Linked DNA regions of Homo sapiens. The protein of the gene in region 1 interacts with the protein of each later gene in a pairwise test. Each region holds a gene or a part of one and is shown in the gene's direction. Other genes may lie near its edges. The genes, in order: WDR25, AKAP8L and UBXN11.

Evidence for each region.
Region 2: the proteins of WDR25 (region 1) and AKAP8L interact in binary tests that used the Homo sapiens proteins (3 or more experiments, as listed by UniProt).
Region 3: the proteins of WDR25 (region 1) and UBXN11 interact in binary tests that used the Homo sapiens proteins (3 or more experiments, as listed by UniProt).

The regions. Positions count from the first base shown.
Region 1 is NC_000014.9:100,463,445-100,470,551, forward strand, and holds part of WDR25 (WD repeat-containing protein 25), read left to right. Parts: intron 1-4,576; coding exon 4,577-4,724; intron 4,725-7,107.
Region 2 is NC_000019.10:15,401,922-15,409,028, reverse strand, and holds part of AKAP8L (A-kinase anchor protein 8-like), read left to right. Parts: intron 1-4,986; coding exon 4,987-5,019; intron 5,020-5,313; coding exon 5,314-5,554; intron 5,555-7,107. UniProt on the Homo sapiens protein: Could play a role in constitutive transport element (CTE)-mediated gene expression by association with DHX9. Increases CTE-dependent nuclear unspliced mRNA export.
Region 3 is NC_000001.11:26,289,567-26,296,673, reverse strand, and holds part of UBXN11 (UBX domain-containing protein 11), read left to right. Parts: intron 1-2,342; coding exon 2,343-2,469; intron 2,470-7,107. UniProt on the Homo sapiens protein: May be involved in the reorganization of actin cytoskeleton mediated by RND1, RND2 and RND3. Promotes RHOA activation mediated by GNA12 and GNA13.

The DNA.
Region 1 (7,107 bases):
TTCACTGGCCTCTTCTTAGACTCCTTTCTGGTTTCTCTCTCTCCTCCCCTGGTTCCCAGCCTGTGAAACTTGGAGGCCTGGGGCTGAGATGTGGGACTCCTCTCTGTCCTGTCTGCACTTGCTCCCTAGGAGAGCTCATCCAGCTCAAGGCTGCGGCACAATTTCCACAATGGCATCCACAGCTCAGCCTCTACCCTGGGCCTCTCTTTTGAACATCACACTGGTACGGGAATGAGTCTTTATACTGTCTGCTGTCTGTCATTCAAAACTGAGCTCCAGGTCCTCCTTCCCTCAAACTTACCCCTTCTGCAGGCTGACCCATCCCTGCAACTCCACCCCTTTCAGTGCTTGGGCCAGGAACTGCGAATGTGTCCTGGGCTTTTCCCTTGCCCTCATATCCTACCTCCAGTCCAGGGAAGTCCTGTTGGTTCTACCCTCCAAGGCAGGCCACTTCTCTACTGCCTCCCACTGTTCCAAGCCATTTCCTCTCTCCCTGGATTCTTGCAGAAGCCTCCTGATTGTCTTCCTTCATCTCTCTTGCCCTTCATTCTCCTCCCTGCATGGCAGCTGGAGTGGTCCTACTGCAGTGGAACCAGCCCTCATTCCCCTCCGTTCCACCTGCAGAACCCTGGGATGCCCCAACGGCTTGTGGTTTTCCGACTTCATCCCTTTCTTACCACCTCCCTGCCAACCCCCAGCCTTGCTCACTTCTCTAGCTGCAGTGGCCCTTCTTGCTGTTGCTTGACCATGCCAGGCATACTCCTGTCACTGCCTGGAAGCTTCTTCCCTCAATTTCTACATAGCTGGCTTTCTCACCCCTTCAGGACTTCCTCCAAAGTCACCTCCTCAGAGAGGTCCTCCCTGGCCACCATTTCAGCCCCTTCCCTTGACCTTATAGAGCCCTTTCCTGGTTACTTTTTAATACTTCAGTCTTCACCACTGCCTTAAGGACTGTGGATTTTTATTTGTTCAGTGTCTGTCTCCCTCACTAGAATATAAACTCTTTGAAGGCAGAGATTTTTGTCTTATTTGTTTCCTGTTACACAATGCCTGGCTAATAGCAGGTCCTCAGGAAATCTTTGTTGAATGAATGAATAAATGAATGAGTTTCAGAGGAAACATTTGGGCATGTTTTCTTCGGAGAGCATTTTCCATCTCTCCCTCTCCTCATCTCCCACACCCCATCGCATCAACCCAGTGCATTTCATCTCCCCCACCCCATCTCATCTCCCCTACCTCATCTCCCCTCCCCATCTCATCCTCCCCTACCCCATCTCATCTCCCCTACTCCATCTCATCTCATCTCATCTCATCTCATCTCATCTCATCTCATCTCATCTCATCTCATCTCATCTCATCTTCTTTTACCCCATCTGCTCTCCCCTATGCCATCTACTCTTTCCTACCCCATCTACTCTCCCCTACCCCATCTCATCTCCTTTACCTCATTTCATCTCCTCTACCCGATCTGCTCTCCTCTACCCCATCTCAAGTCCCCTACTCCATCTCCTCTCCCCTACCCCATCTCATCTCCCCTGCCTTATCTACTCTCCCCTACATGTTCCACCCTCTCTTTGGAAGAGCTGCTGCTTAGTGTTCATAGCTTTTCCCTCTAGCCCTGCCCCTTTCCCTCCCTTCCTAGGAGTGATGGCCCTCCTCATGCATGTTTTTATAGCCTGGCTACAAATTCACGTATAAATGAGATCTGCTTTTTTTTTTCTTTGTGTGTGTGTGTGTATTTTTAAAAACTGTGGCAGAATAATACACAGCATAAAATTGACCATCTTCACCGCTATTAAGCATACAGGTCAGTGGCATTAAGCACATTCACAGTGTTGTGCAGTCTGCACCCCATCTGTCTGCAGAACTCTTTATCTTGGAAAACTGAAACTCTGTCCCCATTAAACAACTCCCCATTCCCCCTCCCCCAGCCCTGGCCACCACCATTCTACTTTCTATCTATCTCTATGATTTTGACTACTCTGGGTACCTCATATAAGTGCAGTTATATAGTATTTGTCCTTATGTGTCTGGCTTATTTTACTTAGCATAATATCTTCAAGTTTCATCCATGTTGTAGCAAGTGCCAAGATTTCTTTCCATTCTAAGGCTGAATACTATTCCACTGTATGGATAGAACACATTTTTACAATTCATTCATCCATCCATAGACACTTGGATTACTCCCCTCTTTTGGCTATTATTAATAATGCTGCTATGAACATGGATGTACAGTATCTTTTTGAGACCCTGGTTTCAGCTTTTTGGGCATTTACCCAGAAGTGGAATGGCTGGATCATGTCATAATTCTACATTTAATTTTTTGAGGAACCATCATGCTGTTTTTCACAGTGGCTGCACCATTTGACATGCCCACCAGCAGTGGACAAGGGTTCCAGTTTTTCCACATCCTTGTCAATGCTTGTTATTTTCTGTTTTTTGATAGCAGCCATCCTAATGGGTACAAGGTGGTGTTTCATGTAAAAACTTAAATGGCATTGTACTTCGTATATGCAGCTTGACTTATGTACTTAATATTAACTTTTTTACCATTTAACCATGTAAGCCCTGTAGATCTCGTTTATTTTACTATTTAAATAAAATTAAACTCATATTCATACATATTTTTGGAAAACAGCAGTTCCCTGTGCCCCATCTCCCTCCCGTGAATTCTTATTCCACTTTGAAGTCTTCTGGCTGTGTCTTCTGGCTGTGTCGTGTTTCTAAATGTAAATACTGCTGTTTCTTGATTTTTTCAGTTTGAGACCCCAGCTATTGACCCTTAGTGAGGAAGAAAGGAACTGAGCTCTCTTCACATTTTTTGAAGGCTACTCTTGACCTTTTGTTTTCTTAAGTGTAGACATTTACATAATCCCAGGAAACAAGGTTTCAGAGCTCTGATCCTTTGCATTCTGAGAACATTCGGGACTTGGCAGGTTGAATTTTCTTGTCTTTAATGAGAAGGTTATCCCTGGGATCAGGTTGGTAGAAGTGCATGGGTGTACTTTGTTTGGGTTTTTCTCTTATTAAAGAAAATGAAGCTTGGTTTTCCTAATGGAACAGGTCTGGAATCCACATCCAGTTGTGTGCCAGCCATTATGCCATGTGCTGTGCAGCCATTACCTCCTCAGCCTTCACCACTGCCCTCGGGGTGGCGCTCTTCTTATTCCCACTTCAGGGAGGAGAGGACTGAGGCCCAGAGAGGCAAAGCCACTCAGCCAAGGCCCGAGGCCTGCCAGCAGCCGTATCAGGTGGGAGGCACTCCGTTCTGACTCCCACACGCTGGCTGCAAGTGCTCCTCTGCTTCTCGGGTTCAGCCTCTGAGCCACCTGGGTGGTAGGTGAGAGCACTGCCCTCATCCTGCAGTGACAAGAAGGTAGGGGACTAGCACTGCTGAGTACCTCTGTGTGTCAGGCCCTGGGCCTACCCTGACATATTCCAAACTCTCCGGCAGTTCCCCTGGGCTGCACGGTGTGTTTGGCGGCATTTGCTGGGAGAGCTGGTGGAAAGCTAAGCTCAGGGGCTCTCACGTGGTGTGGCCCTGGCTCTGGGAATGTGCAGTTTTATACTTGATATCTTAGATCATTTTTCAGAAGTCATTGAGTGTAACAGGGTTTTCTCTCATGAGCCTCATACCCTCATGAAAGGCCAGCATGGGAAGGAGGGAAAGCACCTTCTCTCCTCCAACAAAAGGACAGCTGCCCCTACGGCAGATATTTGTACTTTGACTGGTTGTAAATACGAGTGTAGCACATTCCTTTTTGGATCTCTGTCTTACAGCAGAACCCATGAAAATAGCCTGGACTTGGGCAGTGTCCATGGCAGGACAGATGCCAGGGATGCAGGCGAGCCTGGGATAAGATGCCAGGGATGCAGGCGAGCCTGGGATAAGATGCCAGGGATGCAGGCGAGCCTGGGATAAGATGCCAGGGACGCAGGTGAGCCTGGGATAGGGTTGTGAATGCTGAGGGTGCAGGACTCCCACCCGGCTGCAGGGATGAAACAGGTGTGAAGGGCTGGGTAGGTGACCGGCAGACACAGGAATGCGTTTTCTTTTTTCTTTTATTTTGAGACAGTCTCGCTGTGTCACCCAGGTTGGAGGGCAGTGGTGCAATCGTGATTCACTGCAACCTCTGCCTCCTGGGCTCAAACAATTCTCCTGCCTCAGCCTCCTGAGTAGTTGGGACTAGAGGCATGTGTCACTATGCCCAACTAATTTTATGTAGAGAAAAGGTTTCACCATGTTGCCTGGGCTGGTCTTGAACTCCTGAGCTCAAATAGTCTGCCCACCTTGGCCTCCCAAAGTGCTGGGACTACAGATGTGAGCTGCCATACCCGTCCAGAATGCAGTTTTCTTAACCCCAGAAAAAATTTGGGGAAATGATCCTCCCAACTTACCAATCCCAAGCCTTTACATTTCTGCAATGAAAAGTTTAACATCTAGATATAGATTTGATGGTAAAATAATGAGAATCTAATTCCACCGAGACCTTTTTCTTTCTACAGTGGGGTCGAGCTGAGCCCTGGAGATCAGGCCCTTGTTGTGACACCTGGTGCTGTCTGTGTTTGCCTGCAGGTATGGAACGCCGTGGACTCCGGGCACTGCCTGCAGACCTACTCCCTGCACACAGAGGCAGTGCGGGCCGCCCGGTGGGCTCCCTGTGGCCGGCGCATCCTCAGTGGTGGCTTTGACTTCGCGCTGCACCTAACAGACCTTGAAACAGGTGCGTTTCTTGTGTCACCTCCCTGAGGTGAGCTGGCAGCTCTCTCCCTGGGGAAGGTTCTCTGGTGGGCACGCAGCCACAAGCTGTATACGCTTGCGTGGCAGAGGGAGAGGGGCCTCAGGGTGGGCTCGTGCTCGGTGAGAGGGCTTCCAGACTGCTTGCCCATTGGAACTGCGACTCCCCACAGAGGATGGGCCTCTGCCAGCCAACACAGAGGACAGAGCCCCAAGGTTGTCTCAGCCTCAAGCCATGGGGCTGGATAAAGAGGTGGCTTTTTAATCTACTTCTGACATGCAATTTGTGCTGAAATAGATTTAACTTTATCATTGTGTCCTTTGGTTGGAATCAGGTTAGAATTCCTGTCAATTCATTATCGTTGAAAGTCTGTGAGAAATGATTCCAGCTCATAAGGAAAGTCTTCAAACGAGTTCTGCTTTAATGCCCACACTGAAAAGGCACTTGGGTAGGATGGATTCGTGCCGGGTAAATCCTGAGAGGGCTCTTGACAAGCAGGGCGAGAAGGAGAGAGAAGTCAGTGGAAGGAACTTTCCTTACTCAGCGCTCCTGTGCAACAGGCACTGTCAATACCCACCGCAGCCACAGCCCCCAGGTGGGCTCTCTCCGGGGTTTACAGTGAGGACTGCCAGGGAGTGACAGAGCTGGGATTCGCACCTCTGCCATCTGCCTCCCAGTCCGAGCTCCTTCCTCTCTTTCTCCTTTCCCCTCCCCTCCCCTTTTCTTTCCTTTCCTTTCCCTCTATGTTCTCTTTCTTTTCTTTCTTTCCTTTTTAAAAATGTTTTATCCCCCTCCATGAGCAGGATCCAGCTTCTTTCAGCACCACACTACCTCCTCCCCAGAGCTCCTCGGTCTCATTTCTGCTGGGCTCCACTGCCAGGAGCCCAGGGAGAGGCCAGACTTCACACCAGTCCCTGGGGCTCCCCTTGAACCCTCAGGCCAGCATCTTGCCTGCCTAGCCCCGCAGTGGTGGTGGCTCTGGGCCCTGCCTCTCCTAGGGTCTGGCAAGAAGGAGATGATAACTTGCTGGTCCAACCCCTGCCACTCATGCCCAGCAGCCCCCAGGAGACGCAGAGGGAAAATGGAGAAGGTGGTTTGTTTCCACCTTGAGTGTGGGCGGCCTTGCAGCTCCTTGCATGCTCAGTAGGGGAGGGGACAGTACTAATGGTCACAGGGCCCCTGCCACGTGCTATAGGCTTTGCACACAGCATGTCTAATCCTCACTGCAGCTGCCAGCAGTGATTATTTCCATTTTAAAGGAGAGGAAACTGAGGCTCAGAGGGGCAAAGCAGCTTGCTCAGTGCCTCCCAGTGGTGCATAGCCAGCAGGGATTTGAAGCCATGTCTGTACAACTACAGATTCTGTGCCCTTCCCACCGTGCCGTGTGTGGCAGTTTCTTCTCACAAAGCACTTCCCTGGTCTTACTGATTCTCTTAACCCCTTGCAGAGTGGCCAGACTCAGGGAGTTTGATGCCACTTGATGATGGTGATGACTGGGCTGATGATGGCAGCACTTACTACTGAGCACTGTGTGCTGGGCATTCTTCCACAGCCTCTATACAGCATCTTATTTAGGCCCCACTCACCCTTTGAGACAGGCGCCATCAGAATCAGCTGTACACACACTGGCCAGGGGCACAAACCAGCAAGTGACAGAGCCAGGATGCACGCAGGTCTGCTAGGCCCCAAAGCCTGCTGCCTGACTGTTACACTCTGTTGTCTGCATGTCCCATAAGATATGCTTGATAGGCGAGACAGAGCTGAACAAGACCCAGTGCCTACCCTGGAGAAGCTCCTGTCTGCTGGAGAAGACAGAAGTGCAGAGTCAATCCCAAATTGCAGTGATGGAGAAAGACACAGGAATTGCAAGAACATCTAGATTGGAAAATCAAGGAAGACTTCCTGGAGGAAGTGAAACCTGAGCTGAGCCACAGATTAGGTGGACAGAGAATTAGGATGGAGGAGGTATGGTTGATGAGGAGGAAAGTAGGTTCTTGCAGATGGAACAAGGACAGAGCTGACACAGGAACAGGGTTCCATGTAGTATGCATGGAAACCAAAGCAGGATGTAATATGGGGTGCAGGGGCTGGGGCAGATGAGTCTGAGGAGTGCAGGAGGGGAAACCCCAGCCTGTGGGTCAGGTGAGCACATGTGGGTAGCACACCGCTCACAGAGTGACAAGCTCACTCACACACACCGTCGGATTACTCAAATCAAATTCATTTGATGGCATTGATGGGTTCATAGTGGCCCTTAAGCATTATTCTCTCAATCAACAGAAGTTAAACAAATGCATGCAATTGTATGTGTGGGTGGGTGTGAGTGGGGTGTCTTGACAGGGGGTTCTGAAATTTTTAGACATTCAAA
Region 2 (7,107 bases), on another chromosome or scaffold:
GTGATCCATATTGAGTTAATTTTTCTACAAGGTGTGCAGTATAGGTTAAGGTTTCTTATTCTTCTATGGCATATAAATATATAATTGTTCCAGCACCATTTGTTTAAAAAACAAAAACAAAAACAAAACCATTTTTTCTTTCTTTTTTTTTTTTTTTGAGACAGAGTCTCACTCTGTCCCCCAGGCTGGAGTGCAGTGGCGCGATCTCAGCTCACTGCAAGCTCCGCCTCCTGGGTTCATGCCATTCTCCCGCTTCAGCCTCCCGAGCAGTTGCCCGCCACCACGCCTGGCTAATCTTTTTGTATTTTCAGTAGAGACGGGGTTTCACCGTATTTGCCAGGATGTTCTCGAGCTCCTGACCTCGTGATCCTCCCGCCTCGGCCTCCCAAAGTGTTGGGATTACAGGCGTGAGCCACCGCGCCCGGCCTCTTTCTTTCTTTCTTTCTTTCTTTTTTTTTTTTTTTTGAGATGGAGTTTCGCTCTTGTTGCCCAGGCTGGAGTGCAATGGCGCGATCTCAGCTCACCACAACCTCCACCTCCCAGATTCAAGCTATTCTTGTGCCTTGGCCTCCCAAATAGCTGGTATTACAGGCATGTGCCACCACGCCTGGCTAATTTTTGTATTATTAGTAGAGACGGTTTCACCACATTGGCCAGGCTGGTCTTGAATTCCCCATCTCAGGTGATCCACCCGCCTTGGCCTCCCAAAGTGCTAGGATTACAGGTGTGAGCCACTGTGCCAGGCCTATATTTTCTCTATTGAATTGCCTTCGTACCTTTACTGAAAATCAGTTGACCATATACTGTGGGTCTATTTCTGGACTCTTGGACTCTCATTCTGTTCCATTGGTCTGTACATCTAAATTTCGTTCAGCAGCACGGTCTTTTTGTATTTTTAGTAGAGACTGGTTTCACCATGTTGGCCAGGCTGGTCTCAAACTCCCGACCTCACATGATCCACCTGCCTCGGCCTCCCAAAGTGTTGGAATTACAGGCATTAGCCACTGCGCCTCGCCCAGCAATGCAGTCTTGATTACTGGTTAATAGTAATCTTGAAATATGAGTCCTCCAGGTTTGTTCTTTTTTCCAAAATTGTTAGTTTCTTTGCTTTTGCATATAAATTTTAGAATCAGTTTATGAAGTTTTTTAAAAAATTCATGCTGAGATTTTGAGTGAGAGAGCCTTGGATCTATAGATCTATCAAATCTGTAGAATCTATAGATTAGTTTGAGAAAATTGACATCTTAACAATATCAAGTCTTCTGATTCATGAGTGCAGTATGTCACTTCACTGATGTAGTGTTTTGTAGTTTTCAACACAGATCCTACACATACTTTGTTAGATTTACGCCAAGTTTTTCATGCTTTTAGTGCTATAGGAAATGGTACTTTTAAAAACTTTCCATTCATTGCTGATATATAGAAATTTGATTGCTATTTGATTTGTAGGTTTACCTTGTAATATTTGAAATTTGACTTACAGATTGACCTTGTAATAAACCTTGCTAAGCTCACTTATTCTAGTAGCTCTTTTGTAGATTTGTTTGAGATTTTTTTACATACACAATTGTGAAAGAATAGAGATGGATTTATTTTTCCTTCTGGCTTGAATTGCAAGAACAATATAACATTTAAATAACATTTTGAAAAACAGTCAACCAAGATCCTACCATATTAATGTTTAATTTTTATCAGCTTACTGATTTTGTGTAGTTTAATAATTTATAGGTGGATAGAATTGTGGGTACTGCTCTTATTTTATTTTATTTTTTTAAGATATGATCTCACTCTGTCCCCCAGGCTGGAGCACAGTGGCACAATTTCAGCTCACTGCAACCTCCACCTCCTGGGCACAGATAGCCCTCCCACCTCAGCCTCCTGCATAATTGGGACTACAGGCATGCCCTACCATGCCCAGCTATTTTTTGTATTTTTTCTAGAGATGGGGTTTTGCTATGTTGCCCAGGCTGGTCTCAAACTCCTGGGCTCAAGCGATCTGCCTGCCCCACTTCCCAAAAGGATTACAGGTGTGAGCCACTGCGCCTGGCTGGTCCTGCTTTATTTTATGTTAGAAGCATTTCCTTGTGCCACATAAGGCATAGTAAATTCTTTTTATATGCTTACATGATATGTCACCGAGTAGGTAGGTGTAATCTGATTAACTATTACGTTAAAGTTGAGTGTTAAATTGTTTTCTATTTTTGGTCCATAAATATCACATACTGTGACCATGTCCTTTTTTCTTTTAAAAATTATGTCCTTGGGGCCAGGTGCAGTGGCTCATGCCTATAATCTCAGCACTCTGAGAGGCTGAGATGGGAGGCTTGAGCCCCCAGGAGTTTGAGACCAGCCTGGGCAACATAGTAAAACCCTATCTCTACAAAAATAGAAAAAATTAGCTGGGCATGGTGGCACATGCCTGTTGTCCCAGCCACTCCGGAGGCTGAGGCAGAAGAGTCACTTGAACCCAAGAAGTCGAGGATGCAGTGAGCTGTGATCACACCATTACACTCCAGCCTGGAGGACAGAGCAAGACTCTATCTCAAAAATATATATGTACATATATCTTATTTTTACATATATATGTATATATTTAATAATAATAAATATATAAATTTTAAGGATCTCTCTCTCTCTCTCTCTCTCTCTCTCTCTCTCTCTCTCTCCTTAAAATTTCTTTTGTCAACCATGATCTCATCCCTTCTGGGGATGGAAATGAGTTGGGGTGTTCTTTCAGAAAGGGCAGGTCTTGGGGAGTCCCTAAACGCCAGTCTAGATGAAGGCTTCCTCCTGAAGGGACCCAGCTGGGATGTCCATCAAGGAGTCTGGGTTGCTCCAGGCATAGCAAGTGGCATGTAGTGAGTGTTTGCCTGGAGGGACTCCTGAGAGTTGCCCATCGTGGGAGGCCCTGCTTGTCCTTAAAACGTAAAGTGGTGTTCACGGAGTTGATGCTGCTTCCTTTCGTTGTGCCTCCTCACTCTGTTGTGGCAGATCCTCAGCAGGTGAAGCTTGCAGTGACCACATTGTAGCCTCCCAAGCAGAGCCCTGATGGATCTGCTTTTGCCTCCATATCCTATTTTCTTTTTCTTTTCTTTCTTTTTTTTTTTGAGACAGAGTCTCGCTCGGTCGCCTAGCCTGTAGTGCAGTGGTGCAATCTTGGCTCGCTGCAACCTCCACCTCCCAGGTTCAAGTGATTCTCCTGCCTCAGCCTCCCAAGCATCTGAGACCATAGACGCGCACCACCACACCTGGCTAATTTTTGTATTTTTAGTAGAGATGAGGTTTCACCATATTGGCCAGGCTGGTCTCGAACTCCTGACCTCGTAATCCACCCACCTTGGCCTCCCAAAGTTCTGGGATTACAGGCATGAGCCACCACGCCCAACTCCTATTTTCTTTAGAATAGCTAGTGCCCACTGTCCCTGGTACAAACAGTCACTTGGCCAGGTGTACAGTAGCTGCCTGGGCTACCTGTGTGTTGTTCTATTTTTTTTTTTTTGAAATGGAGTTTCACCGTGTCGCCCAGGCTGGAGTGCAGTGGCGCGATCTCACCTCACTGCAAACTCTGCCGCCTGGGTTCAAGCAACTGTGCCTCAGCCTCCTGAGTAGCTGGGACTACAGGTGTGCACCACCACGCCTGGCTAATTTTGTATTTTTGGTAGAGAAGGGGTTTCACCATGTTGGCCAGGCTGGTTTCAAACTCCTGACCTCAGGTGATCCGCCCGCCTCGACCTCCCGAAGTGCTGGGATTACAGGCGTGAGCCACTGCACCCAGCCTTGTGTGTTTTTCTTTATGTGGCTCTGCCAGCCTCTCTTGCCTCTTAGAATGGCTCCATTCTTTCCTCAGCTACCACTCCTGACTTACCCATGCTGCTCTCTGGCTGTTAGCATCTCTCTTACCAACAGGCAGATCTCCATGCCTGAGCAGTGCCTGGGACTGCAAGCCTCTGTTCCCTGTGCTCAGGGGATACATAAACAAATGGATGAGAAGCCTGTTTTGGTTTCTCCAGCCCAAGAGTTTTTGTTTTGTGAGCTCTCTTGTTAAACATAGTGGTCATCAGCAGTTCCTCAGCTTCTCTCTGATTTCTTCCCATTCTTTTTGTGCACTGGGTCGTGGAGGAACCCAAGTGCAGGACGACAGCCTGCCTGTTCTCTCTGGCTCATCTTTTCAGTTGACTTACACTCTTCCTGCTGTGGTCTGGCTTCTGCCACTTATTGCCCTGCTGTCTGTCTCACTGAGCTTCGGTCCCCTGCCCTGGGATGAGCATGTCCTCTGCGGGGCAGAGATGACATGGAATGGGAAACAACTGTTGGGTCTCACCAGAGACCCAGGGAAAGGGGTCACCTGCTCTGTGCCCTCCTTTGGGGAGGAACTGTGTGTTTGACTCAGAGTTCCCAGGGGACTTTACACTTTGTCACTTCTCAGTGGCTTTATGTTACTGAAGGAATGAGGTTTTATCATGTGTTGTGATTGAATCCAGAGCATATTAAGTTGATAATCCAGATTGTTCTCTCCACAGCTTTTCTCAAGCGAGGGGTTGCTTCTTGGGCTTCTCTCACTGATGTGTTCCAGCACAGCACAGTCAACAATTCAAGGGCTTGTTGGCCCTCCCTTTTAAGGCAGACTCTTGGGAGACTGGGGTTGGGTTTTCTGCTATAAACTGATTAGCACTTAGCTTGGGGTGTGGAGGTCACCTTCTAATTCTGGCTCTTAAAGGGAGGAGTATAGGAGCCAAGTTCCTTAGTTGAGAGTGTTGGGAACAGAAGGATCCTTAAATAACAGATGCTCAGAGCCACAGGCAGCCAGGCACCAGGGCAGCAAGTGGCCTGGGTCATTTGCGCAGTGCTCGCGAGCTCAAGGCTTCTCGGTTAGGGGAGGTGCAGCCTGCTCTGACCAGTCAGGTCCTGGGAATAATTGTCTGCGCCTGAATTATGGCCTTGTATTGTAAGCAAGTATAGATGTAACTGCCCTTTTACTTTTTGTAGGATATGGAACTTGGAACTCTGGGACAAATAGAGGCAAGTGTCATTCCTGTGATTGCTGTCCTGTCCCTTGGGGTTGTCCTGGCTGTGTTTCTCTGCCACTGCCCTGCTTGGCCAAGGTTGGGAGTGGGGAGGGGGCATGTTTCTGGGGTTACCTACTCCTTAACAGGAGGCCCTCATCAGAATGACCAGGGCCCATCTAGCTTCAGTGGCTAGGGTCTTCTCTCTCTGTGACAGAAGATACCCTTGTATCTGTGTTTGTCTCTGTCTCTGTCTGCCTCCCCTCTGCCTGCCCCCACCATCTGTCTGTCTCTGTCTCCCTCACTGCAGGCTACGAGGGCTATGGCTATGGCTATGGCTATGGCCAGGATAACACCACCAACTATGGGTATGGTATGGCCACTTCACACTCTTGGGAAATGCCTAGCTCTGACACAAATGCAAACACTAGTGCCTCGGGTAGCGCCAGTGCCGATTCCGTTTTATCCAGAATTAACCAGCGCTTAGATATGGTGCCGCATTTGGAGACAGACATGATGCAAGGAGGCGTGTACGGCTCAGGTGGAGAAAGGTGAGTGGACACCTGCCTAGGGGTTGAGACTCTGCAGGGGCGGCTCCTGCCTGCTGCCCACTGCGTTTTCCTCTCTGAGTGCCCCTCTGTGTCTGCTTCCTCCCCGCTGCTTGGTGCTGCTGTGGCTCCCAGCAGGGTCCGTTGCACTTCCCGTCTCTGACTTGTGTCTCCTCTCACCCACCCTCAACCCCTGCCGCACTGCCTGGTGGTCAGCCTTTCCCAGCTTGCGGTGAGAGGAACAAGCCCAGACTGGGCAGACTTCACTGTGCCCTCAAAAACAGAGTGTTCAGCCACCCCTCCCTCCAAGGACAGCCATTTGGAATTCTCTCGAGACTTTGCCTCCTGCGTGGTGTCAGGGCAGGACAGATGGAGTTTGGTGTGAAGGGTGGGACGAGCGTTTGGGGCTGATCACTGCGAGCTGGGCCACCCCCACGTAAGGGTCGGGGCAGGTGTGGGCATTTCCTGGTTACTCTCCTGTGCCTTACAAACATGTACCTGATGGAAGCACTCCTGTGAGGAACTGCTGCTGTCCTCATTTTGCAGGTGGGGATACAGAAGTGCAGGCAGGTCATACCCTGAAGGCACGCAGCAAGTACTTGGTGGGGCTGGGCCTCGCCTACCAGATCTGCCCTACTCCAAAGCATCATGCTGTGGGCATTTGTTATTAACTGAACTGGACTTGGCCCAGGAGTGCTTATGCCCAGTGCGAGGCTTTGGTGAGGAGCGTGGGTGTATCTCTAACATGGGATAGAGTGGAGCACCAGCTAACAGATGAGTGAGAGCCAAGAGTAAGGAGTTGCCTGGCTGAGCACTGATAGGGCCAAGGGAGGCCCCAGGGCTGTGGTGGCAGGGTGTGGAACAGGCACAAGGGGATTTGATGCCATGGGCTCTGTAACTCCTGGCCCAACAGCTGCAGCACTCAGAGCTGAGGGCTTGGCATGTGAGGCTTGGCCTTGCGTTGCTGCTATGCACCTTCTTACCACAGCCTGGAGCCTGGGATCGGGGTAAGCAGAGCAGCGGCAGCACCAACTGCTGCTCTTAGAGCTGCCGGTGCCTCTTGGTGGCCCAGGTTTAGGGAAGAGTGTGCAAGGGGAGCCCCTGTGCCTGTGAGGTGTGTGGGGTCCAGGCCTGTAGGGGTGTGGGCTGCGGGCTGCAGTCACGGTTAAAAGAGCTCTCTGCGGTGCCCTCTGTGTCCTGGGAGGAGGTCTGGCCTGCCTTCCCAGTTGCAATACAGGGTATATAGAGTTTGGTGTCTGGCTCTGGGCTCCAGGGTTGATGTAATACAGCTCTTTTTCTTGTCCCTGGGCAAGCTCTCAGTGTCTTCCCTGGGAAATACTCCCCCTTTTGTCTCAGTTGTTTTGGTAATGAGGGACTTTGCAGAGTTTGAAGGTTCCCCAGCCATGAGGGACAAGAACAGTGTTTCCCATGGGTATCATCAGCCTCACTGGCTGCGCATTCATTGTGCTGGACCTGCCTGCATCCTGCAGGGTGCTGGGGTGCTCAGCCTTGCCCTGTGAGGAGCAGCCTTGGGCGTTGCAGCTCCCACAGATGGT
Region 3 (7,107 bases), on another chromosome or scaffold:
GACCTCATGGCTCCCACTGAACTGAATTCTACAGTCCTCGCTGTGGCCCCTGCGGGCTGGCCCCTGCATGCCTCTTCATCTTAGCTTGAACCACTCTCCCCTCCAGCCATGAGGCCCTTCCTCTGGGTCTTTGACCTCATGGAGCTGCTTCCCACCTCAGGGCCTTGGGCCGTGCTGTTGCTGTTCCCTCTGCTGAAATGTTTCCCCACCTCCCCCAGGTCAGTTCCACTGTCCTCAGTCATATCCCCCGGGCCTCCTAGGCAGGTTTTCCATCCCGAGCTTTCTCAGTGCCTCATCTCTCTTCCCTTGTGGGACTCTGAACTCCACGACGGAGGGAGCAGTTTCCTCCTGTATGTCACTGTGCACCCAGGACCTAGCACTGAATTGGTTAAGCAATTTGCTGCCTCTGGCTGTGACTTCTGCTCACTGGGGACTCAGTGACCCCAGTCACCTTTCTTTCCCCCGCTCACAGACCCATTCAAACAGCAAGGGAACTAGAGGGACACCAGGCACAGAGAAGGGTCCCAGGCACGCATGGGCCCTGCCAGAAGTTCTTCCTGGGATTCAGCCTCTCTCCCTCTCCACGCAGAATTGGTTTCCAAAGTCCCAATCTAATTTAAAACCTTGGCAGCAAACCTCCAATTGCAGCTGAGAGCCCTTCCCACTCCAAGCTGTTCATACCTGGGGTTGTCCCCGAGCAGTGGCCACAGGCGGTGAGGGCTGCACCAGAGCCTCGGGGCAGGGGCATGACTGCCCTTGCATGCGTCTCCGCCACACAGTTATCACTTCATTCATTTAACAGCCTCATCTGGAGGATCTGCTTGGGGCAGGCCTGGGGCAGAGCATGACCAAGACAGACATAGTCCCCCGCCTGCATGAGGCTGCCAGTCTGTGGGGAGGGGAACAAACGAGTACACAGGTACACAAGTACAGAGAGTGCTGTGACTTGATGAAATGGGTGACACCACAGAGGCAAGTTGGGGGACCACCTGCGGGGGTGACATTGGGCATGATGTCTGGTGAGTGAGGAGGGGAATGGGGTGAGAGGATCCAGGCCTTAGACAGGGAAGGTGCCACTTCCCGCCACATAACTTGGCTTGCGGTCGGTGGCTGTGTGGAGGAAGGAGAAGAACGGGAAAAGAGAAGAGGTCGTGGGGGCCTTATCACATTGGAGCCGCCCGTGGTTCTGGCTGGATCCTGTCCCGAAAAAATGGGAAGCCATTGGAAGGCTTCTGTTTGAGAGGTGGCATGACAAAAAGACCACCCTGCTTTGTGGGGTTGGGTGGTGTGGGTGAGGAGAGGACGGGGGAAGCAGGCGCCGCCCCTGGATTGTCCAGGAGAAAGATGACGGTGGCTTGAACTAGGGTGGTGGCAGCAGATGGAGCCCAGTGGATGGGTTCCAGGCTGCATTGGAGGGGGCACCACAGGCCTTGTGGGTCATCCTGGAGGAATGGGCGACAGAGGATTCTCAGGTGGAGGGGGTGCCATTTCTGGAGACAGGAAAACCTGGCACGGGGGAGGTTTGACAGGGGGACAAGAGCCACAGCCATTAGACATCCAAGTGTGGACGGTTGGAAATGTGAGTCTGGAGCTCGGGTGAAATCTGCATAAATACAAACTTGGGTTCTGTCGTATATATTTGGGAGAGCGTGTGGATGGAGCTGGGCCCCCATGAGTTGGTGTTGGATAGGAAGGGGAAACGGTGAAGGAAATTGGAAAGGAACAGCCCAGGAGATGGGAGGAAAACTAGCAGATGGTGAAAGATAGACAGAAATGTGCCCATGCGCTTGGCAGCGGGTAGGTTGGTGGTTGCAGCACCTTGAGCAGTTTCAGAGAGGTATGGCGATGGAGCCAGGTTAGAGTGGCTTGAGAAAAGAAGTCGGGGTGTGGACATGTAGACAGTCCAGAAGTTTCCTGTGGCAGAGGGGACATGCGGCCAAGCCCTAGGGAGGCTGGCACATGGTTCACATCCCTCAGCCCTGCCTCCTTCTCACACTTGGGCCAGGCCACGTGATTTCTGCAGCCAAGGAGGCTGACCTTACCGAGCCCTCGCATGGGCTGGGCGCTGACCTGAGTGATCTTACTGAGCCCTCCTCACAAGCTTATGTGGCAGGAACTGTCACTCCATTTTATTAGAGGAGTCGTCTGAGGCTCTAGGGACTGAGGTGGCTTTCCAAGGTCACAGCCAGGAAATGGCAAGATCCCCCTACTCATCCCTTTGTCTGGTCAGCTCTGGGGGCCCCATTGCCTGCAGACTGAGGCTGGGCTTTGGGCTGACACTGCCTTTCCCTGGGAAGGGGCTGAGCTGACGGTGCCCCGCATCTCCCCCTTCTTTCCCACAGCGGTTCCTCAGTGACTATGGCCTGCAGTGGGTGGGCGAGCCCATGGACCAGGAGGACTCAGAGAGCAAGACAGTCTCAGAGCATGGCGAGAGGGACTGGATGACAGCCAAGAAGTTCTGGAAGCCAGGTAGAGCAGGGCGTCTGCCCCAGGCCCTCTTCAAAAGGAATTCTCCAACAGTTTGCTGTTGGCCGGCAGCTCCCCAGAGGCCTATCTCATTCGTGCCCGGGTCCCTGACCCAAGACGCCCTGAGAGCCCACAACTTGCCCCTGAGACAATGTGGGAGCAGCCTTGGCCTCCATCACTGACCACTTAACCTGCTGGCCCACTTCTCCACGGTCCTACCTCTGCTCTCTCTTGCTCATCTGTCAGAGACCCAGAGATACAAGAGGTAGCAAGGCCTTATTTGCCTCAGGTCACATAGTCTACAAAACGCCACCAATCTGGAAGATGTTGCCGTTTTAAAAAAAGGCAATCCTTCTGTTCTAGAAGCTGCTGCCAAATTCCCAGGTTTGGCCTCCCTCTCCAGGTTTGCTTATGGCCCTTGGAATCCACCTGGTTCTGTGGGCCCCTACCATGTCTTTTTTTTTTTTTTTTTTTTTTTTTTTTGAGACGGAGTCTTGCTCTGTCACCCAGGCTGGAGTGCAGTGGCACGATTTGGCTCATTGCAACCTCTGCCTCCCAGGTTCAAGCAATTCTCCTGCCTCAGCCTCCTGAGTAGCTAGGATTACAAGTGTGTGCCAACACACCCAGCTAATTTTTGTATTTTTAGTAAAGACGGGGTTTTACCATGTTGGCCAGGCTGGTCTTGAACTCCTGACCTCGTGATCTGCCCACCTTGGCCTCCCAAAGTGCTGGGATTACAGGTGTGAGCCACCACGCCTGGCCTACCATGTCTTATTTTTAACTTCTAATATCTAGAGGGATTCCTCCCACAGTCCCCTCCTATAGACCCACAGATTTGGGTCCATAAAACTGGCCATTTCTGAAAACCAGGCCCATTCTCTTCAAAGAATGGAGATTGTCACCCAAAAGATGCTTCTCCAGGCTCTAGAGTCAGGCACACCTGGGCCCTCAACTCGACTCTACCTCCTATCCCAAGTGTGACTTGGGCAGATGACCTCTATTCACTTCATCAACAAAACAGGAGTGTTCTTCCCTGGGAGTTACAAGGAGCAAATGAGTTAAACGCAGAGCGCCTAGCTCTGGCCTTGCAGCCATTGTTGTTTCCAAAGTCTGAGGGCAGGGGTCCCACGGGAATAGGAGCACAGCTTCCAAGGGGCCCATTTGGAAGATGACGACACCTTCTTGGTTTCCTGCTAGGTAAAAACCCAGATTCCAAACATGAGAATCCTGCCTCCTGTTTAGGCCTGGGCTCTGGCTGGATCCCCCCAGATCTCAGGGTCTAACGCCCTCACTGCTTGTTCTCAAAACATCACTTCCCATTTTTGTGCCATTTGCAGCTTTCTTTTTTTTTTTGAGATGGAGTCTTGCTCTTGTTGCCCAGGCTAGAGTGCAATGGCACAATCTCGGCTCACTGCAACCTCTGCCTCCTGGGTTCAAGCGATTCTCCTGCCTCAGCCTCCTGAGTAGCTGGGATTACAGGCGCCCACCACCATGCCCGGCTGATTTTTGTATTTTTAGTAGAGACAGCGTTTCGCCATGTTGGTCAGGCTGGTCTCAAACTCCTAACCTCGTGATCTTCCCGCCTCGGCATCCCAAAGTGCTGGGATTACAGGTGTGAGCCACCGCGCCCAGCCATTTGCAGCTTTCAAAGCATTTTCTTTTTTCTTTTCTTTATTTTTCTTTTTATTTTTTGAGGCAGGGTCTCACTTTTGCCTGGGCTGAGTGCAGTGGCACAGTCATGGCTCACTGCAGCCTCAACCTCCTGGGCTGAAGTGATCCTCCCACCTCAGCTGTCTGAGTAGCTGGGACTGCAGGCACGTGCCACCACACCCAGCTGATTTTCTTTATTTTTTGTAGAGACGAGGTCTCGCTACGTTGCCAAGGCTGGTCTTGAACTCCTGGATGCCAGTGATCCTGCTGCCTCAGCCTCCCAAAGTGCTGGGATTACAGTTGTGAGCCACTGTGCCCTGCCAGCATCTTCATAGCCTTGACAGGGGCCAGGAGTTACTCCATTTCACAGATGGGTAAAGGGAGGCACTTAAGGAGTCTGTGGACTCATTATTGAGGGAAGAGGGGCAAGACTTAAGGCTGACAGCCCACTGTAAGGCAGTTGGTCACTGAGGCAGAAGATGAGATGATGCCCAGCTTGAGGGTGGGGATGGTGAGAAGGGATGGGCAGAGAGATTTAAGTAGAATCCGTGGCCTTGGTGTCTTTACATGAGGGAGAGGACCAGAGGAGTCAGGGATAACCCGAGGGAGCACAGCTGCGGGAAAGATGCTGAGTACACTTGGGACACAGCAAAGCTGGGGGCTGTGCAGTCCCTATGATGCTAGGAAGGGGAGCGTGTCCCTGCTGCCCAGGGCACTGTAGGCCCAGGCATGCCAACTCCAAAGCTCTAACTGAACCCAGGGTGGGTGTCGTGGGGAGAGTTCTCAAGGGACCCCTGGCATGAGTGAGAGGTGAGGCCCTATTGGGTGGCTGCAGGTGCTCTGAGAATGTCTATCCTGGATCTAGGCCAGAGGCCCACAAGTGCCGCACCCTGGGCCCTGCTGTGGCGGGCTGGGCTCAGGCTTCAGGTAGGCCTGCCATCTTGTTGCAGGGCAGCCTTCCTCCTGGCCAGGGGGGACCTCCTTGCTCCTTGCCAGGTGGCTGGTTTCTGGACCTGGCTCTGTGGATTCCTACTCTGCCCTGTTTGGTTGTTTGTGCTCTGAGTGCCTCAAGTCAAAGTAACTTGTGAAAAACCCTGCCCTCCATCTTGGAGGCCCTGGCCATATCTGTGGTCCCTCCGTGCGTTCTCTTCCTTCTTTTGTTCTTTGATTTTTTCAGCATGGGCGGGGGGCCTTGATTCGGCTCTTTCTGCCAGATGAATGACGTTTTTCGTCGCTAGCAGCTTCTGTTCCTGGGACATCTCTCCGGCGTCCCCGTTCCTCTCTCCCCAGGTGCCACCCTGCTCCGCCCAGGGGCCTCAGGCTCACAGCCTGGCCCCCGCTGGCCTGCCTGACACTCGGCTGATTGCTCTGCTCTCCCTCTGTTGGAGAGGCTCCCACAGGCGCTGGGGTGGAGGCCTGTGGAGGGTGAGCCAGGGCCGTCTGTGCCGAGCCAGTGGGGTGATCAAACTTCCTGGAGCCTGGGACTCCTAGGGAGGAGGGCCGGTGGGGCCATGAAGGGGCTTGGCCTCAGGCTGGATCGCTCACTCTCCCCCTCTCTCTGCCAGCGTCACAGAGCATGCTGTGCCAGGTGCTTCAGGGTCTGTGGAGACATGAAAGGGACAGTCCTGCTCTGGTCACACGCCACTGGGGCCAGGTGTTGGGCCTCGGGGCTGAGAGCTCTGGTCAGCTCTGAAGTTCTCCCTTCCCCCCCACCCTCTGCATCTCTGAGCTCCTCACTCCTCACTACTTCCCTGTTCCCCTGAGAATCCTCACCCTCTCATCCCCCTCTGAAATCCCCACTTCCCCTACCCAAGTCAGTCCCTGCCTCCCTCCATGGCTCCACCTCTCCCTGCCAGCACCCCACACGCCTCCCTCCTTCCTCTCAAGCCCCACACTCCTGAGTCTGGGTTGGAGGCCCCCTGACTCCGCAGCCTGCGTGACTTGCCCCTGGGCTTGCCCTTCAATCCCAGAGCCACCTGGCTTGACCCCTCCCCACCTGCACTTCTGCCTCCAGCCTTTGCTCCTGCTCTGTCCCCACAGAGCGCCTTGCCCGCTTCCCTCCCCTCTGAAGCTCAGGGCAAATCCAACCTCCGCCAGCAAACTCTGACTGCCCTGTGTGGGCTGTGCTGCTCTGTGGGGAGGGCTCTGCTTGAGGGAAGGGGCTAAAAGCTCTGGCTGAGGCAGGGTTCAGGTCGGGTCAGACCCCAGATCAGCAGATCGCTGACCCCCTCTGAGTTCATTTCCTCCTCAGTCGTGCTGACGGGCTCCTAGGGCCACTGAATGGATGTGGTAATAAACTGTGACAGCCACTGTCACCTAGCTGTTGTCATGCATGTCCCAGTGCTTGGCACATGGGCAAGGGTGTGTGTAGCTGCATGTGATTGGCTGTGATGCCCGTGTGCCCAGGCTTGGATGATCAGAGCACATTGGAACAGTCATCTGCACATGATGAGGTGGGGACAGGGTGGTGCGTAGCTCAATGGCAGGGGCCAGAGAGAGCTGCAGGTGGGACCCGGCAGGCCTGAGTTCAGATCCTGCCAGTCCACAGGCTGGTTGAGTGTTCTGGCGGGGACCAGACCTGCAGGGCCTCCTTTCCTGCACTGGCTCCTCTGAAGAGCAGAGTGACTGCAGTAAAGTCCCCAGAGCGGGGCCTGGCTTGCAGGTGTGTGGTAATAGTGGTTCCACTTCCTGTTGCAGCCGTCTTTGCCTGAGGGTCAAGGGCAGGCACATGGAGGGCGGCACCGCGTGAGCTGCCGGGGTGCCCTGGGCACTTGTGCAGTGAGGGGCTGCCACCTCTCCACTGAGCATGGTAGGGTCTGGCCCTCTTCTGGGCTCCACAGCCCCCACAGTGATACTTACACATGCCATTGTCGCCATTTGCCGCCCCGTCTTCTTCACTTGAGTCTGAGCCTGAGGATGGCAGGACCCTGGGCGTGGGCATCGCCATGATGGGCAGGGCCTAGCAGAGCACGGGTGCTCAGACATTTCTGG